Regions from separate parts of the Homo sapiens genome. Here regions 1, 2 and 3 are each reported to be linked to region 4. The links are microRNA targets in miRTarBase. Many come from high-throughput screens and were not tested one by one. Region 4 holds a microRNA gene; each other region holds the end of a gene's coding sequence.

The links. The annotated mature microRNA hsa-miR-603 reads CACACACUGCAAUUACUUUUGC and lies in region 4 at 4,419-4,440, shown strand. An mRNA with a match to its seed (bases 2 to 7 or 8) in the 3' UTR can be bound and repressed. Matches are read on the target gene's strand: a 7mer-m8 pairs with bases 2 to 8, a 7mer-A1 pairs with bases 2 to 7 and ends in A, and an 8mer does both.
Region 1: miRTarBase lists HLF as a target of hsa-miR-603. Seed matches in the 3' UTR shown: 7mer-m8 at 5,775-5,781, 7mer-m8 at 2,559-2,565 and 7mer-A1 at 2,524-2,530.
Region 2: the mRNA of MTPN is a reported target of hsa-miR-603. Seed matches in the 3' UTR shown: 7mer-A1 at 4,766-4,772 and 7mer-m8 at 3,702-3,708.
Region 3: miRTarBase lists ELK1 as a target of hsa-miR-603. The part of its 3' UTR that is shown has no 7-base or 8-base seed match.

Annotation. Positions count from the first base shown.
Region 1 is chr17:55,320,191-55,327,354 of GRCh38, reverse strand. It overlaps HLF (HLF transcription factor, PAR bZIP family member), which reads right to left. Exons shown (of 4, transcript NM_002126.5): 4 at 2,168-6,691. The coding sequence ends at 6,476. Among named protein-coding and RNA genes, the nearest start is that of HLF, 59 kb to the right of the region's middle. RefSeq lists an enhancer at 6,177-6,677.
Region 2 is chr7:135,923,528-135,930,691 of GRCh38, forward strand. It overlaps MTPN (myotrophin), which reads right to left. Exons shown (of 4, transcript NM_145808.4): 4 at 3,233-6,485. The coding sequence ends at 6,399. Among named protein-coding and RNA genes, the nearest start is that of MTPN, 50 kb to the right of the region's middle.
Region 3 is chrX:47,630,232-47,637,231 of GRCh38, reverse strand. ELK1 (ETS transcription factor ELK1) reads left to right here. Exons shown (of 7, transcript NM_001114123.3): 6 at 118-219; 7 at 305-1,711. The coding sequence ends at 403. It also overlaps a transcript of CFP not described here. Among named protein-coding and RNA genes, the nearest start is that of CFP, 3.8 kb to the right of the region's middle.
Region 4 is chr10:24,271,327-24,278,490 of GRCh38, forward strand. MIR603 (microRNA 603) reads left to right here and starts at 4,359; the gene lies at 4,359-4,455. The region is part of intron 2 of KIAA1217; the gene reads left to right.

The DNA of each region.
Region 1 (7,164 bases), not on the chromosome of region 4:
AAGGCACAGGTTTAGGACTCAGTAACTGTTATCTCTCTATACCATTTCCAGGCATTGTGCCAGGCTTTGCAGGATAAAAAGAAGTTAGAGACAGGGACTTTGGATCCAAGTCCTCCCTGACTCAAAACCCAGAGAGGCAGAGGATGCTTGCCACCTTTGACTAGTCCTATCTCCTCCAAAGGGTCCTTTTGATTTATTAGCAAGAAGCCATCTTCTGACCACAAAGACAAGATTTCAAAGTTCTCACCCAGTTCCTAGCTAAAGATGTCCAAAGAGACTTCTAAGCCAATGATTTTCAACAAGGAAATTGAAGTTGTATGCTTTGAAGAGAGGGGCTTGATTGGGTGGCATCTTATGCTTAAGTGTGCATGGAAGAGCCATCCTACATGCAGCATGTGATGGGCCCCCAGGGACTGAGGACTTGTGTATGACTGGGAGTCTACGCAGCTTGGCTTCATATCAGTTCTTGCCATCTCGGATCCAAATGCTCTCCAGGCATGAAGTCATTTCCTCCAAGAGATTTGAAGATGCCCCAGAAGAATCTTAGGCTAAGGTCACTATTCTTAAGCTAAGGTCACTATTCTTATTCCTCTGAGAAAGGTGAAAGGTGGGTTGGGTGCAGTGGCTCACGCCTGTAATCCCAGCACTTTAGGAGGTCGAGGTGGGTGGATCACGAGGTCAAGAGATCGAGACCATCCTGGCCAACACGGTGAAACCCTGCCTCTACTAAAAATACAAAACTTAGCTGGGCATGGTGGCACGTGCCTGTAGTCCCAGCTACTTGGGAGGCTGAGGCAGGAGTCGCTTGAACCCAGGAGGCTGAGGTTGCAGTGAGCTGAGATCGCACCACTGCGCTCCAGCCTGGTAACAGAGTGAGACTCCACCTCAACAACAACAACAACAAAAAGGTGAAAGGTGTTTGATGGATGAAAATAGAGCTGAACCCTAACTTGTAACCACTCAATTTTAACTAGAGGTTGTCACCAAGTAAGAGATGCCCATCGACCTTGTGCACAAAGCTGGCGCTAGTCTATGAACTGTTGGTGAAGTCACACTATGAAACAACGTCTCTACCACCCATTCCCATACCATCAGCCATCCTGCTCTGGCATATGAGCAGGGGAATTCTTTTCCGTCCTCTCTGAAGGAACGAATAGTCTGAAATATTGAATTGGAAAAATGCTCAAGGCATCCATTCTACTCTCGTGGGCCCCATGTAGTTATCTGTTGAAGGCCTCGGATGTGCCAGAGACAATTCATTTGTTGTCATTAGTTCCCCCCACAACCCTCAGAAGTGAGTATACCTTCATGTCACAGATGAGATTATGTTCAAAACGGTTTAGAAGCTGCTCAAGGTCACATACCCACTAGGTGACAGATTTGAATCCAGAATTGTACTCCTCAACACAGAGCCCCCTTCTCACTATGCCGGAGATGCTGAGTTTCTTGGCCTGGGCTGCAGCCCCACACAGCCGGTTTTGAGCTCCCCAGGTGAATCTACTGGGCTCCCTGGGCTGAGAACCACTGCTCTACATCAGCCTTCTTACATGAATCAGGGGTTTTATTCCGCCTTGCATCACAGGTTCCTTTAGGGAAGTAAAAAAAAAAAAAAAAAAAAAAAAAGCTACAAGTCTTCTCTACAGCAAAATAAATGTTTATACATAAAAAGTTGCATACAATTTCAGATAATTATGGCATCTCTGAAGCCTCTGCGTGGATCCCCCAAGGGTCATGAACTTGAATTAAGAGCCAAGTCTATAAATCCTTGACACCAATTACTTGGCTGCAGATGGAAGTTGGCTGGGATCAGTTTAAAAATTCAGATTTCTGGGCCCCATCCAAGAACTACTGATTCAGAATCTCTGGATTTATACTCCTAGATGTTGCTGAATTATTCTTTATATATTAGAGAACAAGACAGTCTGTGGACTGGCTTTTGGGAACCACCCCTCTAAATAATGCCCACTCCAGGGATCAGAATTCATCTCAGCCACTTTTACCTCTGTAACATTAGGTAAGCTACGTGACTCTCCTAACTTTCCATTTTGTCTTCTGTAAATGGGGATAATAATTGTCCCTACCTCATAGAGCTAATATGGAATAAAATATTCCATCTAAGTGTTTAGCACAGTGTCTGGCACATAACTACCCAATAAATGTTAATTTATTACTAATTATATAGTATTATCATTTTATTATCTAGGTAATAATCTCTACAAATGGTCTCTTTGCTACCGAGGTGGGAACAGAATACCATTGCTAGCCAACTGTTAATAAAAATACATGAAAGAAAGGAAAAAATTCAAAGTTTATTCAACATTAAGAATAACAGACAGATAAAGGTTTGGACTTAACAGCATAAATACCACCAATATCATGGTGTACAATTAAACTAACCTCATGTCAACTTGTACCTGTTTAACAGATGCGATCTTTGTGGTGTTGCCAAAAGGATAATGGATTATTGTTATGTTTGGTAAGGTGCTCAAAATTAAAGACTTTATGTCGACTTATTCACACACATACACACACACACACATGCACGCACACACACACACACACACTCTTACACTTAGCCTCCTGCAAAATGTATTGACTTTAGTTGCTATATCCGATTCGGATAAGGCTTTGCTCATTTTTTAAATGACATTATTAATTGCAGAAAAAACGTGGAGGAGACCTTGGCCTTGCCAGTGGGGGTACCTAGGAGCAGAAGGTGATCGCCACCTGGAGGGCAGATCACTTAGTCTCAGACACCTGCAGGGTGCTGAGACCCCAGTGCTAAATCCAGATCTCCAATTGCCATCACACATAGGCAAGCAGGCCTGGTCCCATGCCTTGGGATCGCTCTAATTGACTGTGATAAAGATTGAGTTTTCCTTAAAGGAAGAATAGGGTAAAATGAGATAAACTACTAGAAAAACCAAAGAATAGCTTTGCATTTCACAGAATGTCTATTGTTTTACACTGGGGGCAGTGGGGAGGGTGCCACTGATAATTCTTGCTTCTTCCGAAAACAGACCCTAGACATCTGATTGTACATTTGGAATTACTGTGAGTTCCCCACCAAACCAGTGGGTTAGAAGGAACCTCTGGGTGGTCTAGTACAGGTTTCCATTCCACCCACCCCACTGTGGAATCCCATCTGTACTCTCCTCAAAGGGTCCTTCTGCTTTGAGGGATGGGTCAGTGGAGGCCTGTTGTATTTGAAGACAAAAGGCCTATCACAGTCTTGCCTAATGTGGTATTTGAATGGTTCAAAGTGGCCACTTCCTGAAGAGAAAGAAGTAATGATCTACAGCCCTCCCCTCAACAAACTACCTCCTTAAGGCAGCACCAGCAGAAAGATAGGCTGGTCAATTTTTGCCTTTCTTTGCCAAGTCTAGTTAAAAGAAACAACAATGTGACCTCATCAGGAGGTCCTAAGCTGTTCCTTCCAAATCATGTCTAGATGATGTCAGTATGATATGATTTGGATTCATTGTTAATGGCCAAATAATTAATCTCTGAAAGATGCTTAGGATGAAAAGGTGAAAAATGACAAAGGGACTCTCATAATAGCTGCAGCGTGCAGACATGCGTCTGACTCCGGTTGACCCAAATCACTCAGAGTCAAGCCATGGCCTCCCGCTCCATGAAGCAGATCTGCCTTGTTTGCTAGTTAACTGCCCTGGATGGAGAGGCAGCCAGTCCAGAGGGAGTGTTCGTGTGTGTGTATCGTGACAATGACCTACATATAAGGCACCTGTACAGACTCCAAAGTGTTTAAATTTGTAAGACGAGGTAGGTTTCTGAAACCTCTCCTGGCACACAAGAGAATACATTTTATTAGAATCTTTTTATTTTTTTCTGCAGAAAACATTTGAGATGCTCATTTGATATAAACATCTAATTCCAAGAGAGACCAGTGCTCAAATATAGTTTTTTCAGCTACCATTTGATACGGCCATAAATTTGGATGGTCCATGTTACAATCCTTCCACAATTCTCCACTTAAAGACATCATTTTTCTATGTTTTTAATGACTATTGCCATCTAACAATTCTACAATTCGCCTCTTTGCCTGTAAAAAGGCCAACTCTACGTCCACCTGTGTCTCATATTGCTATCTTTTATTTATCTCTGCTTAAGATTGCAAAAGTTTTTGATTTTATTATTCACCTGAACAATGTATTGCAATTCCAATACACCCCCATCTCTTGCTGTTATCTACAGCTTGTGACAAAATGAACACCTTGTAGAAATATCCTACTGGTTGGGTTTCCCAAGTCTATGACACTATGAGAGAAGCATTGCTGATGGATTGACGAGGAGACCACCAGATCATTAAAGGATTAGATACTCTGAAGGCAGGAAACTAGAAAATCCCATTGATGAAAGGATATTTTAATCTAGCGTAAAATGTTTCTTTGTCGTAACAGCAGAATTTCTTGACATTTTACAACTTAATGAAACAAAAGAACAATCATCTTTAAAGTCAAACATCTATCAAATTATAAACCAAACACATAGCACCGATATCAACCTCATAAAACGTGCGGGCCCGCAGGGTAGAAAAGAACTGTCTGGGGCACTGGCAGCAACGTGCCATTCCAGGAACTCAGAATTTCGAAGTGAACATTTTTGTGGCAGATGCTTTTCCTAAAAAACACTGTATCATCCAATAAATATTTGACTAAAATCCATTTTGTGCTTTTGGGTGACGTTAACTGACTTCTTTCTGAGGCCTAATAAGAAACAAGAAAGCTCCTTGTGTATTTTAGAGCAGGATTCGTCATCACAAGCCTCGATACTGTCATAAAATTTTAATTTAAAGCAGAAAACATGCTGATGTGTCAGTGATAGGGCTTAAAATATTAAAGACTTCAAAAACCCCCAAGCACTTCTTCTCTGTACAACATTGGTGAATATATATCTTTGCTATATAATTTTAAAACATGGAATAGTTTTCCTCTCCTCTTTTCTATATATAATATATGTCTTCCAAAATACATTGTCAGTATTTATATCTGAAAAATACTGTACAAAAAAGAACTTCCTATAATTACTCTGTATAAACATTAAACGATTTAATAATCTCTCCTTTTGGTCTATAGTAAACATTTAAATTGATTGGATTAACCACAGTTTGTGACAACACCATCCCCTTCTGAGATACACCAGTGTCTTTTACATTCATTTTTCAGAAGTCCACTTTATAAGAGCACATACGTTCAAAAGCAAACAGAGAATAAGAAACATAAGCTTCAGAATCATTAATTTATGAGGCATTCAAAAATGACACCACTAGGAAAAAGGGCCTTAGAAAACATCAACTTATTAACTTAATCAACTGATTTTCTTTTTAAAAACAACAAAGTATAATTCACAAAAATATATATATTACCAAAAAGTGGGAAAACTGAATCTTAAGTAACTGTTTTGAATGTCAAGAGGGATATGGAAAAAGTTAACTAGAAAAGTGGGGGCGAGGCAGGGTGTGAGGGAAGGGGAACAACAAAACCGAACACATCAATGTCAAAGGCTAATCCAAGACGCAGTTTTTGGCTCATGTACTGATAAATTAACCCCTCATCCTTAGACCTCCCATTTCCCTCTGCTTCCTTGTCCTAGGGAATAGTCTGGCCATGCTCAAATGCATTACTTTACTTTTTGTTTTTTAAAAGACAGTGAAATTCTTAGGTAGGGAAAATATCCTACGTCCACTAGTAATACTCAGGCAGCATGCTCTAGCGTACAATAGGATTATTGCTTTAGGTACAGACAGTGCAAAAACACACTCTGTGTTCTATTAATAGTACTCTTACTTATCTGGGGTTGGTAGAATTAAAAGGAAACTTAGTAGATAGCAGTAAGTAAATATGGGATCTAATAAATCTAAACAGCACTTTAATTTGAAGACGATTATCACCAAAACTGAAAGTAAGAGGAAAGCAACTTATAAAGGACTAGAGCTGCGGAGTAGTGCTAAGTTATTGTGTGCACCTCATTAGCATGGTAACTTACGGACTAAACAGAAACAAGAGCTTGTACTCTTAAAAACTGAGATCCACTATTTTACCAGGGCCCTTTTTAGTGAATCCAAGCAGAGAGTCCTGGAAGAGTAGGTAAGCTCGAACATGAAGCAAAGCTGAGGAGGCAGGAGTGAAGGAGGGAGGGGATGGGAGACCCGCGAGAGGGCTCCTCAGTCTAGTAAAGACATGGCACCTTTCTTTGTTGGAACTAAAAGACGATGAGAGGGCTACCTTAAAATGGCAAGAGCAAAGGAACACGCACACGCACATACCGCTGACCACACACATGAGCACAAGCACATATACACGCACACACACACAGATGCACACCAAAATGGGAGTCAGTTGTGTTTATGCCTCTGGTAAAGTGCTGATGTCAGAAAGGTTGGTTTGCGTGTGGTGCTATCAGACAGGAAACAAACTGTCCATCTATTCCAAAGCCAGCCTGCAAAAATGCCATCCTACAGGGGCCCGTGCCTGGCCTCATACTTGGCAAGTATGTTCTTGCATTTGCCCAGCTCCTTCCTCAAGTCAGCCACCTCCTGGCGGAGGGCCGAGTTCTCCTTCTCCAGGAACGAGGCCCGGATGGCGATCTGGTTCTCTTTCAGCCTCCGGGCGTCGCGGGAGCGCTTGGCTGCCATGTTGTTCTTTCTGCGCCTTGCCCAGTACTTGTCATCCTGCTCATTAGTTACAGAAGGGAAAAAGAAACAAGATATTAGATTTCAGCAAAGCCCAGTGCCAGCCAGGGCACGGGCAGGCTCCAGGATTGTGCAGAGGTGCCAGCCCGGGTTTCTTAGCTTGTGTCTCCTTCCTTTACAGTTTCTGCATGTCTGAGAGTGTGGCCCATGAGCCACACTTCCTTCTTGGAGCAAGGACCCACCGATCTGTCCCAACAGGCTCCTACTCTTTGCCCAGCAGAGGCGTGCTCAGTGAAGCAGAGATCAGAGGCTGGATGAAAGCAGGTGGCTCACCTCACCCTTAAATTACATTTCAACTTTCTTTACTCTCCCTGCTCAACATTTTAAGAACCCTTTTCCTTCAAGGGCACTCATATGCTTTTTTGGGTATGAGTTGGTACAAAAATTTTAGAAGGCAATTTGGCAATATCTATCAACTATTTAAATGGATATACTATTCATCTAGCACTCCA
Region 2 (7,164 bases), not on the chromosome of region 4:
GCATGAACCCGGGAGGCGGAGGTTGCAGTGAGCCAAGATTGCACCACTGCACTCCAGCCTGGGTAACAAAGCAAGACTCTGTCTCAAAAAAAAAAAAAAAAAAAAAAGAAGAAAAATATAGCTTATTTAAAAAAAGTCTATCTAGTAGTATTCTCAAAACCAACATCTGGTGGCTAGGAATTGTCTATGTATTATTTTCCTTTGTGTGACAAGATGCTGTTGCTACGAGTGTTGCCAGACACGTGATCCACTGTTCTATCAAAACAGTGGAAATAAGACCATCCTTGCTGCTTCAGCTGCTGAATCATAGAAGTTGCTGGAGTGGCCAGACAATGCTTTGTTTTGCTTTGTCATGTATAGCTGTGCCTGAGTATGTGTCATGATGTCTCACAGTGACCTGCATTTGACCCACGCTCAGCATTTCCTCAGTGAATTGTTGTGACTCTGTGATATTTGTCTTCACATCATTGATTTCAGTTTGCAATCAATATCAGTAGTACTTATGAGGCTCCATGGTCAATATTTGGGTACATGGACACAGGTAGCCTCATGGCTCTTCTAATAGTCTTTTCTAGGGCAGGATTTACTGAATCAAAGCTGTTTTCACATTTTACTGTATAATGGTTTTACGTCATCATTCAGAACAAACACAGTGAAATGTCTATTGAGGGCCAGGTGCTATTAAAGCTGTTGTTAAATTCTCTCTTCTCAATCAGCAATCATATTTTAAGGAAGTAAAAGCCTTGGAGAAAAATATCCCATGGCTGATGTGTGATGATCTGGCTGGTATCTGGGTAAGATCGTTGACCTGACACAGGACCTAGTTAGTTGGATAGGATGAGTGGCCACCCATAAAGAAAAACGGAGGGCAAAAGCCACTCCACTGTGCAGAGAAATTGGGACACTCCACTCCAGGGAACCTGGCCACCCCAAGGCTGCTGTTTCCAAGCCAGCAGCACACCCACTGCAGTGGGGAATCCATCTTCACAGCACACTGTGACAGCAAACGGGGCATTGGGCTGAGAAAGCAGCCTTTGACTTCCTCCCAGAGTGGCTCTGCCTGCCAGTCCTGCACCCCACAATGACCTGCATATAAAAAGCATGAGACTGCAGTTCATGTCATAGGTCCCAAGAATTCTTTACATGTCTCTCCCAGCCCTCCACTTTTTTTTTTTTCTGAGACAGTTTCATTCTGTTGCCCAGGCTGGAGTGCAGTGGTGCGATCTCGGCTCACTGCAACCTCTGCCTCCTGGGTTCAAGCGATTCTTGTGCCTCACCCTCCCAAGGAGCTGCGTGCGCCATCACACCCAACTAATTTTTGTATTATTGGTAGAGATGGGGTTTTCCCATGTTGGCCAGGCTGGTCTCAAACTCCTGACCTGAAGTGATCTGCCCACCTTGGCCTCCCATAGTGCTGGGATTACAGGCGTGAGCCACTGTGCCTGGCTTCCACCTTCCACTTTACTTTGGAATTCAAGGAAAGGTAAGGTAAGGGTAAGGCTTGAGTCTCAGGAATCCAGCTTTGGGGACATAAGGCGGAAAAACCTCCTAAGAATAACTAAGGGTCATTTTCACCAGTATTACACCTTTGGAACCATTGTTACATTTCACCCTGACTTCTTTTGGCCAGAATATACCTTTGAAACTCATTTTTAAAGATTTTCCTGGACATCTGGAGCTTCAAAACTTGGCCAGTTTTGCTACATTTCACATGTTAAAGGCTTCCATTTACTTTCTCTTTAGGAAGTCATGCCTGATGGCATCTATTTATAGGCTATTTGACTGTTTCTTGCTCTTATGGTCTTATTCAATGGTCCTCAAACTTCAGCACGCATCAGAATCACCTAGAGGGCTTGTTACAACATAGACTGTTGGGTCCAGCCCGAGTTTGATTCAGTAGGTCTTGGCTAGCGTCCAAAAGCTTGCATTTTTATCAAGCTTCCAGGTTATGGCAATGCTGTTGGTGTAGAGACCACATTTTGAGAATCACTGATGCTACAGAAAGAGAAAAAAAAAAATCTTATGGTGGTCTGGTATACTGTGCTGCATGAAAAGTCCTATGACAGCTATTCTCTAATGGCAAACTAATTTCCCTCTAAGCTCCTTCTTTCCACCAGGTGTGTGCCTTCCATCCACATATGCTGGTCTGTTCTTCAATCATTATATAAGGGGACTCTATTCCCTTTAAAATGTATTTAACCAGATTTAAACTTTCTTTACAGACCCCAATTCTTTTTTTCAGAGTGGGTCTCGCTTTGTCGCCTAGACTGGAGTGCAGTGGCACAAACACAGCTCACTCACTGTAGCCTCAAACCTCTCAGTCTCAAGCAATCCTCCCACCTCAGCCTCCCAAGTAGCTGGGTCTACAGGCACTTGCCACCATACCCAGCTAATTGTTTTTTAATTTTTTGTAGAGACTCAGTCTCCCTCTGTTGCCCAGGTTGGTCTCGAACTCCTGGGCTCAAGTGATCTTCCTTGCCTCAGCCTCCCAAAGTGCTGGGATTACAGGCGTGAGCCACTGCGCCGGTCCTAGATTCCAATTCTTAAAATGAGAACTTAAAAAAATTTCTGTAATCACTTCCACCTAAAGCCGTACATGGTCCCCATTTATACTTCAGTCAACAATGTGAAAGTTCTAAAATACAGCTTTTGCTGTAACTTAGTATCTGCACATATATATTTTTTTTCTATCACTAAAAGTAAACTGCAATAGTCTTCTGGTGCTAACAAGATTACAACACAATCAAACTGATTTTGTATTTAATTTTGTTCAGTTTTAAGGTTCAAAGTGATCACTCATCCTGAAAATTACACTCTAAAAAAGTGCTCGTAGTTGAGTTTGGGAAATGCAGATCTCCAAGAAATGTGGAGCAACTTAGATGAGCAATGAAAGGATCAGAGGTTTAACCACGACTCCATTTTCTTCAAGCCCCCTGAAGATCCTGACGATCTGGGATGTGCTGGCTACACCCTGCTCCCCGTCAACCAGGAGCGTTACTGAAGTTACAGTAAAACAATGTCAGGAGACTGACACAAAAGCAAATCCTTTCAAAGACTGGTAAGGTTTATTTCAATTAAATCTTTATGTTTTATTTTCCCTCCACTCATTTTTTTCTAGAAGTGGGATAAGATTAACTAAATGTTTGAGTCAATCAAGCTTCTGGTATAGTTGTAGAGATGACTACAAAAGGAAGGTGATAATAACTGAGAAAAATGCTGCTGACACATTAGCTGTAGCACAATTCAAGTTTATTCCATTTGTTCTTGCAACACAAAACTTAAAACACAGTATTATTTAGCATTCGGATGTACATGAACTAGGATACTTATGAGAAACCCAACTGCGTCAAAAGTATGACATTGTGGAAAAAATGAACTCAAATATATCAAAATGCACAAAGCACTAGTCTTCCTCCATTACCGCTTAGAAAGATATGATTGTTTCTCCATTTACAAAATAGAATCAGGACAATTTAAATTTTTTATATTTTGCATGCAAAACACTGCAATTGCTTATTTATGTAGGAGGGCACTCTCACCAGCTTCTTCTATACACAATTGAGTATACAATATTGCATGGAAGAAAACAGCAGCTCAACTGAAATATTAGAAAAAAAAATCAAACAGATACATACAGATTTAAAATCCAGTACTTGGGAAAAGATATCAATGAATAAAAGGCCTACTTGTTTGCAGCTTCCACACACTGCACCTACCTACTACCTCTCTTCCATGCTTAACTGGGTTTAGAAAGGTGAGCTATGCGTAGAAGAACTACTTGGGATATTCAAGTGCTGTATTTGAACGATAAGCCTATAGATAACAGTCTGAAGCTGCAAGGGAGACTTTGTTAGTACACTACTATAAACAGGTAAACTACCTGTTTGTACTTGATATAGTGCATATGAAATGACTGATTTAATACAAAACTACAGAACATGCAAAATTTTTTCTGAGATGTTAAGTATTACTTCAGTGGAGAACAAAACTTACTTAACCTTTCGCTAATGCATGTAGTACCAGAAAGCAAACATGGTTTTAGCTTCCTTTACTCAAAATATGAACATTAAGTGTTGTGAATTTGTCTGCCAAGTGGTTCAGAAATACATTATAAATAACCTAGTTAAAAAAAGAAACTGTGAACCATCTTGGTCAGTCTATTCTATTCTATGTTTATATGTTATTTTCTCAAGCAATCGCTTCATAATTATAGGGTTTACAAAAAGGTCGAGAAAGAAAAGCGAAGGCGAAATAGCCTCTACTGCATTACAAGCAACATCAGGATAAACTGTACAAAGAATCACATGGTTTCCATACCATGAATGTAGAAAGCAGACCAGGTTTAGGAATGATAGGACAATGCACTCTCTGCAATAGCCAACTACAACAAAACACTTTGAAAGTAAAGGTGAAAATTATATAAAGGGAAAAATTCAAGCCTTTAAATAGCATTATGTCAAGAGGTGAAAACAAAGGTATCAAAACACCCTGTTGCACTACGTTGATAGTTATAGACTGATAGAGTGCCCTCCATTTTCAATGAGGATGTCTCCATATTTTAGTTCAGTGATGTAATAAAGTACTGATTACTGATTTTTAACCCAACTCTTAATAGGCTGCATTAAGACAGCAAAATTAGCCAAATACAACAAAGTATTTAAACCACTACTTTGTGATTGTTTTCTTGGATGTAGGAAAATTACAGGGTTAGGCTAGTTGTAAGTGAAAAAGCCACAGGATTAAAAAAAGGACTCATGGGGAAAAATACACACACACACCCACACACACCTATACACCCACACACCCACATGCCAACCAACCAACCAACCAGCAACTGATCAGTAAAACTTGTTATTAACCAGGGTGACTGTTCTTGATAATAGATTAACCCTGCTGTAGAATGCTATGTTGCCTTTAAAAACCAATTCAATTATTATCCACAATCTGAGTATCAGTCCCTAACCCACCCTCCCCTAAAAATTTGAGGTACATTCAATTATTGCATGACTTGGTCTTAATATTTTTAGCAAGCTTATATGGATGGCAAGTCAAAGGAATCTTAATATTTTAAATGTAAGATATAAAATTTAAGCTTATATATTTTAATTAGCTGTACTGCTCATGAAATAAATATTTGGAAATATGTGTAAATATTTTCTGCAGGTCATAAGAACACCATTTTAGGGCACTGTATTCCAAGAACAGAGAATACATTTTGAAGTTGTCACACTTTATGTAATGCATGATTTATAAAAGCAACAAAAATATATTATGCAGGTGGGTTGGCATATGTTCAGCAGAAGCCTATCAACAACTCTGGGAAACCTGGTTACAAGTGTATTTTTGAAGGGATGGGGCTAAATTTGTCCAAACAGTAAATCTCACCCCAGTGATAGCTTTGGTGCAGTAAGTAATCAGCCTCCAAGATGGGTCTGAGAGAGGCATTTCAAAGAATGTTCCTTAATTCTCAACACATAACCAAGGTCAATCCATTCAAACAGCAAATAAAGAAAATCCATAGGTACTAAGATAACTGTTCTCTCTTCATATGATACTAACAGGCTTATGGCTATGATTCTATTTTTAAATCCCCTTTTACTACCAGCAGGAGTTTGAAAGTGTTTCAATGCTATATAAATGTATGAATCTAGAGGAGAAAAAAATATGCATACTGGAATGGTTTCTCCTTTAGACTTCCAAAACTTAAGATTTTATAAATAAAACTAGTCAGTTTTATCTAAAGAGACATGAAATCCATGTGAAAGGGGAGAGAAAATCCAAAGTTCAGTCATCCAGCAATTTAGGAGTGTGCCCCTCCTCACCTTAACTAAGCTTTCACATAAAGCTTAAAGTCACCGAGGAAAGATTTGGTCACCAACCTTATAGGCAGCGCTCTTAACTATGCCAGGAAATCCCCAGTAGAGTGCATTCTTAAGGCAGAAGGCTAGAGCTAATTGCTTATCTCAGCACCCTAAGTTTACATCACAGCAGCCACTACTGCTCAGACAGTTAGGGCTACCAAATATGTAGAGTTGGCCTTTGTAGAATCAGACCTTCAACACAATCTAATAAATTAGCTAGGGAGCTGAAAAGGTCAAATGTTACTGGTGTATTTTGTCTTTGCTCTCCCTTGGGTATAAGGTGTATATTTTATTAGAAAGGGAAGAGGCTTACTTGATCAGGAATCCCAGTAAAAGCCTGATCATGGTTCCTTTTGCCCCTCCTCCAAAACAATTTTTTTTTTCTGGTAGTCGGATTTGTTATGAATTTCTCTCTCCCCTCACCCCTCTTAAAGTATTTAGCTGAAGAAGCTGGCAGATAGAGAGTGACAGACAGACAGGCAGCAGTGTGAGGCCACAGGAGAGTCATTCTTCCGGAGTTATCAGTCCATCCATCCATCACTGGAGAAGAGCTTTGATTGCCTGGTTGTCAGTGGCTTCAAAGGCGGTCAGTCCATCTGGGCCTTTCACAGTCTTATCAGCACCCTGGAAAAGAGAGGAAAGGGCTCATTAAATGAGCCCACAACTGGGGGAAGGGAATGTAAGACTAGCTCACATGGCACAGGTTAATGTTTACATCAAGAATTAAAAATTCCTTTACTAGTGGAGTCTATTCTACTGCAGAAAAACAAACAAGTTGGCAACATTATGGATTAATTATAAAAATGCCACATTATTTTTCAGGCACTAAGAATTGTAACCCAGGCAATCACTGGCTTTTATTTATACTATCATGGATGAGATGATTAGGAAGAGCACGTTGAGCAAGTTAGATATATTTATCTAATTAGGCTTTAAAAATAATATCCCTATGTGCAGTATGAAACGGGGAAAAAGTAAATCACTTTGCTAAAGTATTCCTGTGACAAATTATTTTTTTCTTATTTGAAACACTTTTTGTAGAGTGCATTCAGTATTATATACATCAAGAACAAATACTGTATTCGTCATTTTACTTGTAAAAACTTCGCAGTAAATGCCTGAGATGCGGACTATAAGAAGGTTCCCTGCGATATTGTAGGGAAATATTCAGTGCAGACACCAGACTGCTCTGAACGCTTAACTTGGAGAGTGCTGCCTTGGAACATTTTATCTGCAACGCGGCATTCTGGTTTTGAGAGTGTGTATGTGCCCTTTTGTGCCTGTATGTTGTTTCATCTGTCTA
Region 3 (7,000 bases), not on the chromosome of region 4:
GGGGAGTGACCCTGGGAGTGTGAGTGGGAAATCTGTGGTGGGGCCGGGACCAAGTCCCTTCCAGCATCCCACATCTACTTTCTACTCACTTGAGCTCCGACCACCCTCTCCCCACAGACCCCGGTGCTGCTGACACCCAGCTCGCTGCCTCCTAGCATTCACTTCTGGAGCACCCTGAGTCCCATTGCGCCCCGTAGCCCGGCCAAGCTCTCCTTCCAGGTAGGATCCTCTTTCCCCGTTTTGGACAGGGTGAGAGACCCAAGAATGGCCCCCATCTGTGACCTCTCCCTCTTTTTGCCCCCAGTTTCCATCCAGTGGCAGCGCCCAGGTGCACATCCCTTCTATCAGCGTGGATGGCCTCTCGACCCCCGTGGTGCTCTCCCCAGGGCCCCAGAAGCCATGACTACTACCACCACCACCACCACCCCTTCTGGGGTCACTCCATCCATGCTCTCTCCAGCCAGCCATCTCAAGGAGAAACATAGTTCAACTGAAAGACTCATGCTCTGATTGTGGTGGGGTGGGGATCCTTGGGAAGAATTACTCCCAAGAGTAACTCTCATTATCTCCTCCACAGAAAACACACAGCTTCCACAACTTCTCTGTTTTCTGTCAGTCCCCCAGTGGCCGCCCTTACACGTCTCCTACTTCAATGGTAGGGGCGGTTTATTTATTTATTTTTTGAAGGCCACTGGGAGGAGCCTGACCTAACCTTTTAGGGTGGTTAGGACATCTCCCCCACCTCCCCACTTTTTTCCCCAAGACAAGACAATCGAGGTCTGGCTTGAGAACGACCTTTCTTTCTTTATTTCTCAGCCTGCCCTTGGGGAGATGAGGGAGCCCTGTCTGCGTTTTTGGATGTGAGTAGAAGAGTTAGTTTGTTTTGTTTTATTATTCCTGGCCATACTCAGGGGTCCAGGAAGAATTTGTACCATTTAATGGGTTGGGAGTCTTGGCCAAGGAAGAATCACACCCTTGGAATAGAAATTTCCACCTCCCCAACCTTTCTCTCAGACAGCTTATCCTTTTCAACCAACTTTTTGGCCAGGGAGGAATGTCCCTTTTGTTCTTCCCCCTGAGAAGCCATTCCTTTGTCTGCCAACCTCCCTGGGGTCCTGCCTGTTTCCTCCCAATGGAGGGTTTTTTTGGGGGGTGGTCCCCGTCTGGGGGGCCCCTCCAGCCAGTACTCCAGGTCTCCCTGTCTCTCCCCCGCTGCCATTTTGATAGTATAATCTATTTTTAAATGGGGCTTTTCAATAGGGGAGAGGGAGTCATCTCTTCCTATATTTGGTGGGGTGGGTGGGAAGGAAGGGATTTGGGGGGGAATCTTCCTGCCGCCTCCCCCACTCCAAGTGTTTATTTTTGATACCAAACATGAATTTTCAGTTCCCTCCCTCCCAGCCCCCCAATTTCCTGCGGGCGGGTACAAAGGACCCTTTCAATGTCCCTGGAGTTGGGAGGGAGGAATGGGGGACATAAAGCCTGTCCTGTCTCTATTCTAGGCAAGAGAGAGTGGGTTCAAAAGACTCCTGGGCTCACCTGTTAGCGCTGGCCCAGCCCAGGCCTTGGGACCTGGGGGTTGGTGATTTGGGGGACAGTGCTACACTCGTCTCCACTGTTTGTTTTACTTCCCCAAAATGGACCTTTTTTTTTTCTAAAGAGTCCCAGAGAATGGGGAATTGTTCCTGTAAATATATATTTTTCAAAGTGATGCTGGAGGCTGCTGGCACTTTTTCTCTGATGTTGTCAGGACTAGCTGAGCGTGACACGCATGACTGTGTGTGGAGGGTGTGAGGCAGAGGTCGATTGTGAGAGAAACGGTGTGATGGCGTGTGTGAGAAACAATAGTAGGGACTGCATATCGGTAACCATGTGTGTGTCAGAGACGTGGAAAGCTGTGATTGTGTGTGAGAGTGTGCAGAAGTTGTGACCACAGACTTTTGATGGTGTGTCTATGTGGGAAATTGTGGCTGTGTTTCAGAAAATAACTGAGCCTGGATGAATAGTCAAGGTACTGTACAAGAACCTGTGATGGTATGCACAAAATAATGTCTACGAGAAGGGAACGGGGACTGCAGCCCTGTCACTGTTTGATGGCGAGCAAGACAGACTGGGTGACCAAAACCACATGTGAGAGACTACGTGGGCATGAAACTACAGTAGAGGTTGTCAGGGATTGTGGCAAAGATTGTGTAGGTGACAAACCTCACTGTAGGCGACTCAACGTTTGAGAAATAGATGATGTGCAAAACTGTTTACTTGAGGCTGTAGTGTCAGCTAAAGCTGTAAGACTGTATGGGTGCGAACTTGATTGTACGGGAGAGAATGGCTGGGAGACCAAACCAGTGACCGAGACCAAAGATACAAGAAGGTGCAATTGTGTGTACGAAAGCAGGCGTGAGAGACTGCAGCAAAGACTGAGAAAAACGAATGGCTGTGACTGGGAGAGTGTGACAGGCTGTGTGTGTGTGTGTGTACACCTGAAACTAGTTGCAAATCGATTTACCATTACTACCACAGTCTATCCCACAGGTTCAGGGACTGTGAGAAAGTAGGAGAGAAAATGACGGTGAGCCGGACGGAGCCACTGACATGGTGTGAGAGACCACATCACTGGGCATGCAAGGGAGAGGGACAAGGAACTGTTTATGAGAGACTTGGCAGTAGCAGTAACTGGAAGTCAGAAACTGTGGGAGAGGAACTTGACAACTGAGTGATGTCAGAGCACCAGGGGGTCTGTGAAACAGTTCATAAGAAACCATAAATCAGGGGCCATACAAAAGAGCTGAGCAAATGAGACATGCCAAGTGACCACGTGACAGTGTGTGAGAAACTTGTAAAGCTGTGCACGTGTGTCCGTGATGAGCTGACCATATGAAGAAAATGACGGTGTGCACGACTGAGAGGGCATGGGTGACTGTGGGTGACTTATCGAGGGCCTAGTGGTGATTGTGAAATACTGACCGAGTATATCAGAAGCTGACTGAGGGACAGTGATGACTGAGACAGTGGCTGAGAAACGGATTGTGTGTCCATGGGTAAACCCTTTGCAAGAGACTTTATGAAAGGCTGTAAATCAAGGACTGAGGGTACTGGAAGCTGATTGAGAAGAAACGTGAGACTAGGTGACGACAGTGTCTGAGATACTGTGTGATTGTGTATGCGTGTGAATGTCTTTGTGGGAGAGGCTGTAATCAGGGATCGTGGGTGTGTGAAAAAGTGGCTTGAGTGAGAAAGGGGTAGGAGAGGTGATTTTTGTGCATGTGTGGGAAACTTCATGAGAGACTAGTTAGTGGTGACTATAAATCAGTGACTATTTGTGTATGTGAGAAAGTAACAGGCCAAATGAGTGCCTAAACGTTTCATGAGATTGTGTGACTGCACGTGTATGTAAGGAACTGACTGGTGAGAGAAACTATTGGCAATATTGACTGAATGAGACAGGCTGTTAAACATGATTGTGTGTGTGAAACTGTTAGGAGACTGTAGTAAGGCTGGAATCCATGACACAGAAAATGACTATGAGTGACAGAATGTCTGAGAGGCTGTGTGATTAAGAGAATATAGTAGAGGCTGTAAATCCGGACTGGGTGCGGTGGCTCATGCTTGTAATCCCAGCACTTTGGGAGGCCAAGGTGGGAGGATCACTTGAGGCCAGGAGCTTGAGACCAGCCTGGGCCACATGGTGAGACCCCGTCACTACTAAAAATTTAAAAAATTAGCATAACGTAGTGTTGTGCACCTGTAATCCCAGCTACATGGGAGGCTGATGTGGGAGGACTACTTGAGGCCAGGATTTTGAGTTTGAGACCAACCTGGGCAACATAGAAGGACCCTGCCGCTACCAAAACAAAAAACAAAATTACCCAGGTATAGTGGTGCATGCCTGTAGTCCCAGCTACTGAGGACACTGAGTTGGGAGGATCGCTTCAGCCCAGGAGTTTGAGTTTGAGACCAGCCTGGGCAATGTGGCAAAACCCTGTCTCTCCAAATAGTTTAAAAAATTAGCCAGGTGTGGCGTGTGCCTGTAGTCCCAGTTACTCGGGAGGCTGAGGTGGGAGGATGGTTTGAGCCCAGGAGGTTGAGGCTGTAGTCTGCGATCACGCCACTGCACTCCAGCCTGGGTAACAGAACCAGACCCTGTCTCGAAAAGAAAAGAAAGAAAAGAAAAACATAACTGTGTAGATAGGTTTAAAAAAAAAAAGAGAGAGAGAGAAAATAACAGACCAAATGAGACTGTGTGAGAGGTCTAATGCCCTGCAGACCCTCGAATGTTCCAGGCCCTGGAGAAAAACCCTCTTCTGTTTTTCCTGTTCCTCCACAGGCCCCTCCTGCTCAGTCCGCTGGGCTGGCTTCTCCTACTTCTCTAAAACTTGAAATGCTGGGGTTCCCCAGGGCAAAGCCCTGGGATTCCCTTCTCTCTTCTCACGCATCCTCTCTAGGTCATCTTATCCAGGTCTTCACACTTGAAATACTACTTATCCTCCATGGGATGCCCACATTTTTACCTCTAACTCAGACTGTCCTTCTGGCATTTTATCGTAATCTCTAAAGTTTTGTTTATTTCATTGATTGATTCATTTAGCAGATGTTTATTGAGCATCCACTGTTTCCTGGTGCCTATCTAATGCCCTGCAGACCCAGCAGTTAACAAGCCAGACAAAAATCCCTGCCCTTGTGGAACTGATATTTAGGGAGTGAGAATAACAAGAAGCAGGCAAATACATAGTAGCAGGTAGGGATGTAATAATTAAATAAGACAAGACTCTCACTCTTTGTTTAAGGAATCTGCAGTCATTTTATTGCCTAAACGTGTGGGAAAAGATAGAGTGCTGACAGTCCTCTTCCACAGGGAATCCTATGAGTATTTATACAGTTTAGAAACAAAGGAAATATTGTTAATATTATTACCAGGGCAACAGGTGGTTAAATAAAGAAGCCAGCCAGAATTTCAGGTTTCTTTCTTTTTTTTTTTTTTTTTTTTTGGGACAGAGTCTCACTCTGTCGCCCAGGCTGGAGTGCAGTGGCACGATCTCAGCTCACTAGAGCCTCTGCCTCCCGAGTTCAAGCGATTCTCCTGCCTCAGCCTCCCAAGTAGCTGGGATTACAGGCATCCGCCACCACGCCTGGCTAATTTTTGTATTTTTAGTAGAGACGGCGTTTCACCATGTTGACCAGGCTGGTCTCGAACTCCTGACGTCAGGTGATCCACCTGCCTCAATCTCCCAAAGTGTTGGGATTACAGGCGTGAGCCACCATGCCTGGCCAGTTTCAGGTCTCTTGGAGAGTGTTTTCACAGGATAACACAGCAATGATTGTCTTGAAGTCGTAGAATCTTAATAAGACTCCTTTGTTCAAAGCACATTTTCAAGGATAGCCTTATGTTATCAGAGAACAGAGTATGTCTGTAATGGATACAGATATTAACACATACTTTACTGCCCATAAAACAAGTGTTCCTGAAGAACTTCTGTTTTAACAGCTGACCAAATTATTACATTTGAATTTGCAGAATTCCTCTGCCTCCCTGAGAGCAGAGGAAATTAGGCATTGCCTTCCTATCTTTCTTGTGCTTCTTTTTGTTAATTAAAAGCAAAATAAAAATTTTAAAGTGGGCCCTGGAGTTTCATTAGGGTTTATAAAAAAAAAATAAAAAAATAAAAAAAAAAGAAGGGCTGGTGTGATGGCTCATGCCTGTAATCCCAGCACTTTGGGAGGCTGAGGTTGGGAGAAAATATTGAAGCCAGGAGTTTGAGACCAGCCTGGGCAACACAACGAGACCCCATCTATACAGAAAATAAAAACATTAGTTGTGTGGTGGTGTGTGCCTGTAGTCCCAGCTACTTGGGGACGCTAAGGTGGGAAAATCACTTGAGCCCAGGAGTTTGAGGCTGCAATGAGCTATGATCAGACCACTGCACTCCAGCCCAGGTGACAGCAAGACTCTGTCTCTTTAAAACAAAACAAACAAAAAAACAGGTTTGGAAGCTACTGGGCTAGAGAGTGACAGGGATGCCAGACAAGGGTATGGGGAAGGCCTCTGTGAGGAGGGGCAACATTTGTTATCCATCTTCTCGAGGGCCAGGATTTTTGTCTGTCCTATTCTCTGCTCTAATGCTAAGAACCGCATCTGGCATCCAGTAGGTGCTCAATAAATGTTGAATAAATTTATCAAACACAGAGCACCTACTATATGCCAGGCACTGTTCTAAAGACTTTCCAAAAGCTTAACTCCTGGCCGGGCACGGTGACTCACGCCTGTAATCCTAGCACTTTGGGAGGCCAAGGCAGGTGGATAACCTGAGGTCAGGAGTTCGAGACCAGCCTGGCCAACATGGTGAAACCCTGTCTCCACTAAAAATACAAAAATTAGCTGGACATGGTGGTACACGGCTGTAATCCCAGCTACTCAGGAGGCTGAGGCAGGAGAATTGGTTGAAATCGGGAGGCAGAGGTTGCAGTGAGCCGAGATCGTGACACTGCACGCCAGCCTGGGCGACGGAGTGAGACTCCATCTCGACAAAACAAACAAAAGCTTAACTCGCAATCTTTGCAACACACCCTACCTATGTTGTAGGTGCTGTCTGTGAGCACATTTTACAGAGGGGAAACAGGCTCCAGAAGGGGGGTGTTATCTGCCTGAGGGTTCTCTGATGGAATATGGCCCAGCTTATTCCCTCCTAATCACCCCAGACCCTGGTGTTGTCCCCAGCTGGGCCCATGGAACAATGGATAGACCCCATTCCCCTCCTGAATCCCTCCCCAGGCTCCTGCCACTTCCCTTTCTCACTTCCCTTGTGCTGACCTCCCCGACCACAAGCTGACCACAGGGAACCTCTCAGGAAAGGAGGGCCGAGGTTAAGGGAGGGTGGAAGGTGGAGCAACTGACTCGATGCTCCCTCCACCCCCACGAGCAGGAACATACTGAGCACCGCACACTCACTTCACCCTGGTTCAACACCCCCACGAGGTTGACCCCGTCATTATGTTAGAGATTATG
Region 4 (7,164 bases):
ATTGAAAAAACCTCACAATATAACCAACATGCTATCTGAATCTTGATTGAGATTCCACATCATAAGTGCTAATTTCAGTTCTGACTATAACCAATTTGTTAGTTTATACTTACTCTTTACTAAAGGAAAGAAGAGTAGGAATAGGATGGTGCGGTGGCTCACACCTGTAATTCTAGCACTTTGGGAGGCCGAGGTGGGTAGATCACATGAACCCAGGAGTTCAAGACCAGCGTGGGCAACGTGGCAAAACCCCATCTCTGCAAAAAATTATAATAATTAGCCAGGCGTGGTGGCATGTACTTGTAGTCCCAGGTACTGGAGAGGCTGAGGTGGAAGGATCACCTGAGCCTGGGGAGGTTGAGGCTGCAGTGTGTCGAGATTGTGCCACTGCACTTCAGCCTGGGTGACAGAGTGAGACCCTGTCTTAAAAAAAAAAAAGAGTGAGAATAATGAAACTGTGCACACGCAGGCCTTTTAATAAACTTTCCCCCTGTACGCAGCCCATTCTAGCTATATATATTTCTTGGTCCCAGCCTCTTCAAATAAAAATTGTTTTATTCAAAAGTATGACCTAGCCTTATACAAGATAAGATAGCCCACTTAAAAGTGGCATAAAAGGCCACTTTTATGCATCTCCATTTTAGGTTGGTTACAAGAGGCACAGAGAGACCAAAGCCCATGGGATGCTCGTGAGAGTAGGAAATTGGGTGGGAAGGGTGGACTCGGGAGACAACCTGACATCTCTCTACTTGAAGCCTAGCAATAAGGTTCAAAGGTTCCTCATGCCTTGTTTTCCCTTCTCTCTACATGATTAAGATCCCATTCCTGTAACAGATAGCAATGTGTTTATGCAGTAAAATTAGATAAGGGAGATTACTAGGGAAGTCACTACTCAGTTAGGGATGTCAGTGGTGCTCACTGCAGGTCCAGGTTAGTAATAAGAACTCTGGACTAGTAGCTAGGAGTGCTTGAATCTAGATTAGTTCTACTTTCTAACTCGATGTGTGACATTTTTTCCACTTAATTTTTTTGGCCTTGGTTATCTTATTGGAAAAAATATTCAAGTTGCACAAATAACTAAATGATGCCTGAGTTTTCATTCAGTTCTAAAACTTCTCAACTGAGCAATCTGTTGTTGAAAGGAGAGTACGAGTTCTAAAAGCTACTCTAGGGAGCTCTGCATTCACCAAGCCGCTCCATCATTGTTGGGAAGAAAATACTAAGGTTGACTCATTGTCAAAGCCACATTCTACTCAAACTCAATGTACATAACTCGAATTCTAGCCACATTCCAGCCAAATTGAGATAGCTGTTCAAATAGTCATGGATTTATTTAATAACTGACTTCGAAATTCTTTACTTCTTTCAAGGTGGCATTAACAAGTATTTCGGAATTTCAACAGAGATCGGTTTTCACGTGCTCTTCAATGATCCCTGTGAAATAAATCATATTCAAGGGTTTTTTTCCCCTTATGAGTTATTCGCCTGAAGGAAGAATTCTTCATTTCTTTTTCTTTTAAATGCATGTTGGAATAAAGTCTTCTTTGAAAAGTCTTAATGAAAAGAGCAAACGTGGAATAGCATCCACCCCAGTTCTTTCTCTGGTCCTTGCACTCTGAGAATGAAGTCTTAGACAGCAGAATGTCAGGGGACTCTCATTGCGTAAAAGTCTGTGCCCTTCTGCGCCTTGGACAGTTATGGACAGAAGCCTTTAAGAAGAAGAAAATTAAAACTAGTTAATTTTTTAGTTAATTTTAGCAACACTACATATATGAGAGAGAGAAAAGATGGCATTTTCTGAATGAATGAGATGCCTCTGCATTTTGCCCAACTCATTGGAGACTCAGGATAGAGAAAAGGGAGAAATTATGTTTAGAGGCTGATAAATTTCCCTATGGTTACTATCAAGAGATCAGACTCTTATTAACATTTGCAAAGTGTGAGCAGAGAAGAGCATTTGAACAATAAGCATAGATTAAGTACTCCTCTTTCCTTCATTCCCTTTTCTCTAGTCATATTCTCAGACAGTCCAGGCTAAGTATTAATGATCTTCTTTGAAGTTAAACATACCCTTGCTACTTTCATTACATTATTATTTTTATGTTCTTCCTTTTGGAGTACTCAAGGTAAATGACATGGCAGAATCTGTCCCAGTCCAGTGAGGGTGTCACATAAGAGGCCCTTGGCTTACCTCTATGCATAACTGGCCCACGTCACATCTTTAATTAGAAGTCCAAGTTATTGGCTGGACGCCATGGCTCATGCCTGTAATCCAAGCACTTTGGGAGGCCAAGGTGGGTGGATCACCTGAGGTCAGGAGTTCGAGACCAGCCTGGCCAACATAGTGAAACCCTGTCTCTACTAAAAATGCAAATATCAGCCGGGTGTGGTGGCACATGCCTGTAATCACAGCTACTCGGGAGGCTTGAGGCTGGAGAATCGCCTGAGCACACGAGATGGAGGTTGCAGTGAGCCGAGATCGTGCCACTGTGTTCTAGCCTGGGCGACAGAACAAGACTCTGTCTCAAAAAAAAAAAAAAAGTCCAAGTTACTGTTGCAGGGATTGGGACATCTTGCCTTTCTCAAGTTGAGCAATATTCCCAAATATAAAAATGTAGGATCTTAGTCCAATCAGAGCAGATATTTGGTGTAGGGCATTTTCTAATGTAGTACCAATAAATTAGACGCATACCTCAACCAAAAAACAGCCCATATCCAGTAAGTAATAAGGCAATGATTTACATTTCACATATTACCAGAGTAATGACTAATAGCATACATGTATAAACTGAAAAGTGACTGATGCTTATTTTCAGATGGGTCCAAATTTATTGGATAATTATGGAGAATAATGTATGTTTTCTGAGAGTTGGTAGTAAGAAAATATTGCCATTGCTGGCCAGGCACAATGGCTCACACCTATAATCCCAGCATTTTGGGAGACTTGAGGTCAGGAGTTCATGACCAGCCACCTCAGCCTCCCAAGTAACTAGAACTACTGGTGCATGCCACCAAGTCCAGCTAATTTTTTTTTTTTTTTGAGACGGAATATTGCTCTGTCACCCAGATTGGCTGTGTTCTCCATTCTAAGTCCAGTGGTTAGAAATTGTCAAGTTCTCACATCTGCAAAAAAAGTAAAAAAGATGAACCTGCTACATCTAAATATACTTTGTTGTCTTCCTACAAGTCCTATTTTACATACTTATGGCATTTTTACTGCAGTTTGAAAATACAGTCAATTCTTGTTATTCACAGTATTGATGTTCTATAAACTTGCCCTAAATACTGCATTAGTGAGTCCTGAATTTATTAGTTAATACTGAATTTCCTAGGGGAAATACAGGGTTAGGTTCCTGTGAGTCTTTGGTTACCTTTTTATCAACCAATCAACAAAAATCCTTATTTTACCTGTGTTTTTGTTTGAAGACACCTTTTAAAATATATATTATTGATTCATTAGCATTGAACTAAGCTTATCTAATGCACTTATTTTTTGTGTAAGGTGTATCACAGCCTTCTTGAGCCTAGGAATGCCAAATAGTACTTCCACACCATACTTAAGGGCCATTTCATTTTATTTCTTATTTTTAAAATTTATTCTCTTTTCTTATTTAAAGAAAAAATTTGTAGATGCCGGGTCTCGCCCTCTTGACCAGGCTGGAGTGCAGTGACACAATCACAACTCACTGGAGCCTCAAACTCCTGGGCTCAAGTGATCTTCCCACCTCAGCCTCCCAAATATCTGGGACTACAGGCACACGCCACCATGCCCAGCTAATTTTTTAATTTTATTTTTTTGTAGAGGCAGGGTCTGGCTATGTTTTTGAGGTCTTAATTCCCCAATGAACATGACTAGTATATTCCAGGCTGGTCTTGAACTCCTGTCACAAAGCAATTCTCTTGCCTTAGCCTCCCAAAGTGCTGGGATTTCAGGCATGAGCCACTGCACCTGGCTTGGACCATTTTAAATAGTGAAGTCACTCACACACACATACACGCATGCAGGTGCACACACAGACACAAAAAGACACAAAAATGCGAAACTTGTGGCACTAAAAAGACTGTGGAAAGGGTGCTTCCTTACAGTATGAAAACTGAAACAAAAAAGCAGAGTGTTGTTTAGTTAGACGCCACCTGGGAACGTGCTTGTTGGGAAACTCCAGTTGTCCACTGTCCTGCCATGTCTATGATGACTGCAAACATTTGGGAGTATTAATTTGAGGGTCACAAACAGATTTTAGGTGATGGGCATATTTACAAATACAGAATCTGCTAGTAATGAGGACTGACTGTATAATGCTTTAGTAGTCTCAAGTATGTTTTTTTTCTCATTAAGCCTTTGCTTAAGATGCAGGCAAGATTGATGCTGTTGGTTTGGTGCAAAAGTAATTGCAGTGCTTCCCATTTAAAAGTAATGGCACACACTGCAATTACTTTTGCTCCAACTTAATACTTGGCTTTATTGACTTTTAGCATCAGTGCAGTTTGGTTAATGATAAAATTTTCCAAAGCAGTGTCTCATCTGCAGGAGCAAACTATAGCAAGGGCCCTGGCCATCAGTTCTCCCTTCTGGTCCTGATATTCCTTTTTAAACTGTCTTTCCATACCCCTCCCTCCAGTGGGCTTGGCGATGTTGCATTAAATAGCAAAGAGAAGGAAACTCCTCCCCAGTCCTCACTGACCATTTCTTTTTCCACTCAGTCCTGCTCAGAATGTAGAAGAGAAGTTGAATTTAATTCATAAATTCAGCAGCTTGAGGACTGTCAGTTTTGTCGTTATTTAGTGAAATAGTAATTGAATTGGGCTACAAGGTCATTGGAATCTGCTGTTTCATTTCATATCATTTTACGTGTTATTATTCTAATAAGAATACAAATGGAGTTTGATGCCATTTGCTGATCATCCATCTTATTGATGCCATTGAACAGAACGCAGAAACACAAAGGGATTTATAAGGCATTTCAGTTTTGATGTCCTTTGAAAAATGAAAGTCTTTTCAGAAATGCAAAAGACAAAATGACTTAGAATTCCATCTCGTTCTGCCCGGTTTGAGGGCATCCCTTCCTATTCCTTAGATAGCTGTTAATAAGAGTCCTGAGGAAAACTGGGTTTGAATTTAAAAACAAAAAATTTTTAAGAGACAGGGTCTCGCTTTGTCACCCAGGCTGGAGTGCAGTGGCACAATCATAGCCCCTGTAACCTTGAAGTCCTGGACTCAAGTGATGCTCCCACCTCAGCCTCCCTAGTAGCTGGAACTACTGGCACATGCCATCAAGTCCAGCTTTTTTTTTTTTTTTTTCTGAGATGGAATCTCACTTTGTCACCGAGGCCGTAGTGCAGTGGCGCGATCTCGGCTCACAGCAACCTCTGTCTCTCAAGTTCAAGTGATTGTCCTGCCTCAGCCTCCTGAGTAGCTGGGACTACAAGCATGTGCTACTACGCCCAGCTAATTTTTGTATTTTTAGTAGAGACAGGGTTTCACCATATTGGCCAGGCTGGTCTGGAACTCCTGACCTTGTGATCCGTCCGCCTCAGCCTCTCAAAGTGCTGGGATTACAGGCATGAGCCACCACACCCAGCCAAGTCCAGCTAATTAAAAAAAAAATAAAAATCGTAGAGATGGGGTCTCCCCGTGTTGCCCAAGCTGGTGTCAAATTCCTGACCTCAAGCAATCCTCCCACCTCGGCCTCCCAAAGCTCTATGATTATAGATGTGAGCTGCCATGCCTGGCCTTAAATTTTTCAAAAGCTTTTAAACCAATCTTAAAATGTTTTATCCTCTTAGAATCATGTCCCTAGTTTTATAGCTTGGAAATTCTTGCTCTTTTCAAATTGCTCTTTAACTCTGGCCTGATTGGAAGGTGGCAGCTTTTCAAATACAGGTCATGGCAGCGCTCAACCTGGATTCCTCAGTTGCAGAAGACTGCTTTTGCTAGACTGCTGAATTTACTTCCAACTTTTCAGATGTTTCTGAGGTTGACCCTGGTGTGGTTCCCACTCAAAGTGGAGCAAGCAGGTGGGTGGCAGGTCTCTTCTTAGCGGCTTCCTAGAGGGAAGCCTCGTGAGTGGGATGGGGGACAGGTTGCCCTGGGGGAGCCCAGGAATGGGGAGACAAGGCCACCTGCTATGCAGATGATATAGTTTGGCTGTGTACCCACCCACTTCTCATCTTGAATTGTAGTTCCCATAATCCCCACATGTTGTGGGAGGAACCTGGTGGGAGGTAATTGAATCATGGGGGCGGTTTTCCCCATGCTATTTTCATAATAGTGAGTGAGTTCTCATGAAAGCTGATGGTTTTATAAGGGGCTTTCCCTTTCACTGGGCACTCATTCTTCTCCTTGCTGCTGCCATGTGAAGAAGGACGTGTTTGCTTCCCCTTCAACCATGATTGTAAGTTTCCTGAGGCCTCCCCAGCCCTGCAGAACTGTGAGTCAATTAAACCTCTTTCCTTTATAAATTACCCAATCTCAGGTTTGTCCTAATCGCAGCATGAGAATGGCCTAATACAGTAGGTTTTCCTGAGTCCTCTCTCTGACTCACCCTCTGACGGGCAAAAGACAGTGGCAGCACTGCCAGCAATCAGCTGGGAACTTCTCCCCTGTGATAGAAAGCAGTGCTTGCTGGCTTCCCTTTGTGATGCTTTTGGACAGCAGCTCTATGGACCTATGCCTTTTGTCCTTTGAGGACGGACGCACAGTCTGTGCAGCTCGAGGACGCCGTCATGGGTGAGATGCTGTGGAGTGTGATGACGCCACCTCTTAGGCTGTGTGTGAAAGTAGCGAGGAGAGGCAGGGTCTGCATGAGCCACTTTGGAGCAGGCCAAAACACTGTGGAGAAGCACATTACAGCCACAGTGGCGGTGTAAAGGGTCAGACTGACCACTGGCTTCTGGAAAGTCTTCATTTCTGAAAGACTGTCAGGTAGAAGATGGATGAGAGTTACTCTGTGAGGCCGGAAACCTAGAACTCAGACCATTGTGTGCAGACCAGGGAGAGGCAGTGTTTGGAGTGAGATAAGCAGGAATTTTGAAATTACACAGACCCGGTTTTGAATTTACTCATGAGCTGTGTGGCTTAGAGAAAGCTGTTTAATCCCACTGACCTTCATCTGTGAAGTGTCCAAAAATAATACAGAGCTTGCAGAGTTGTGTGGATAAGGGATA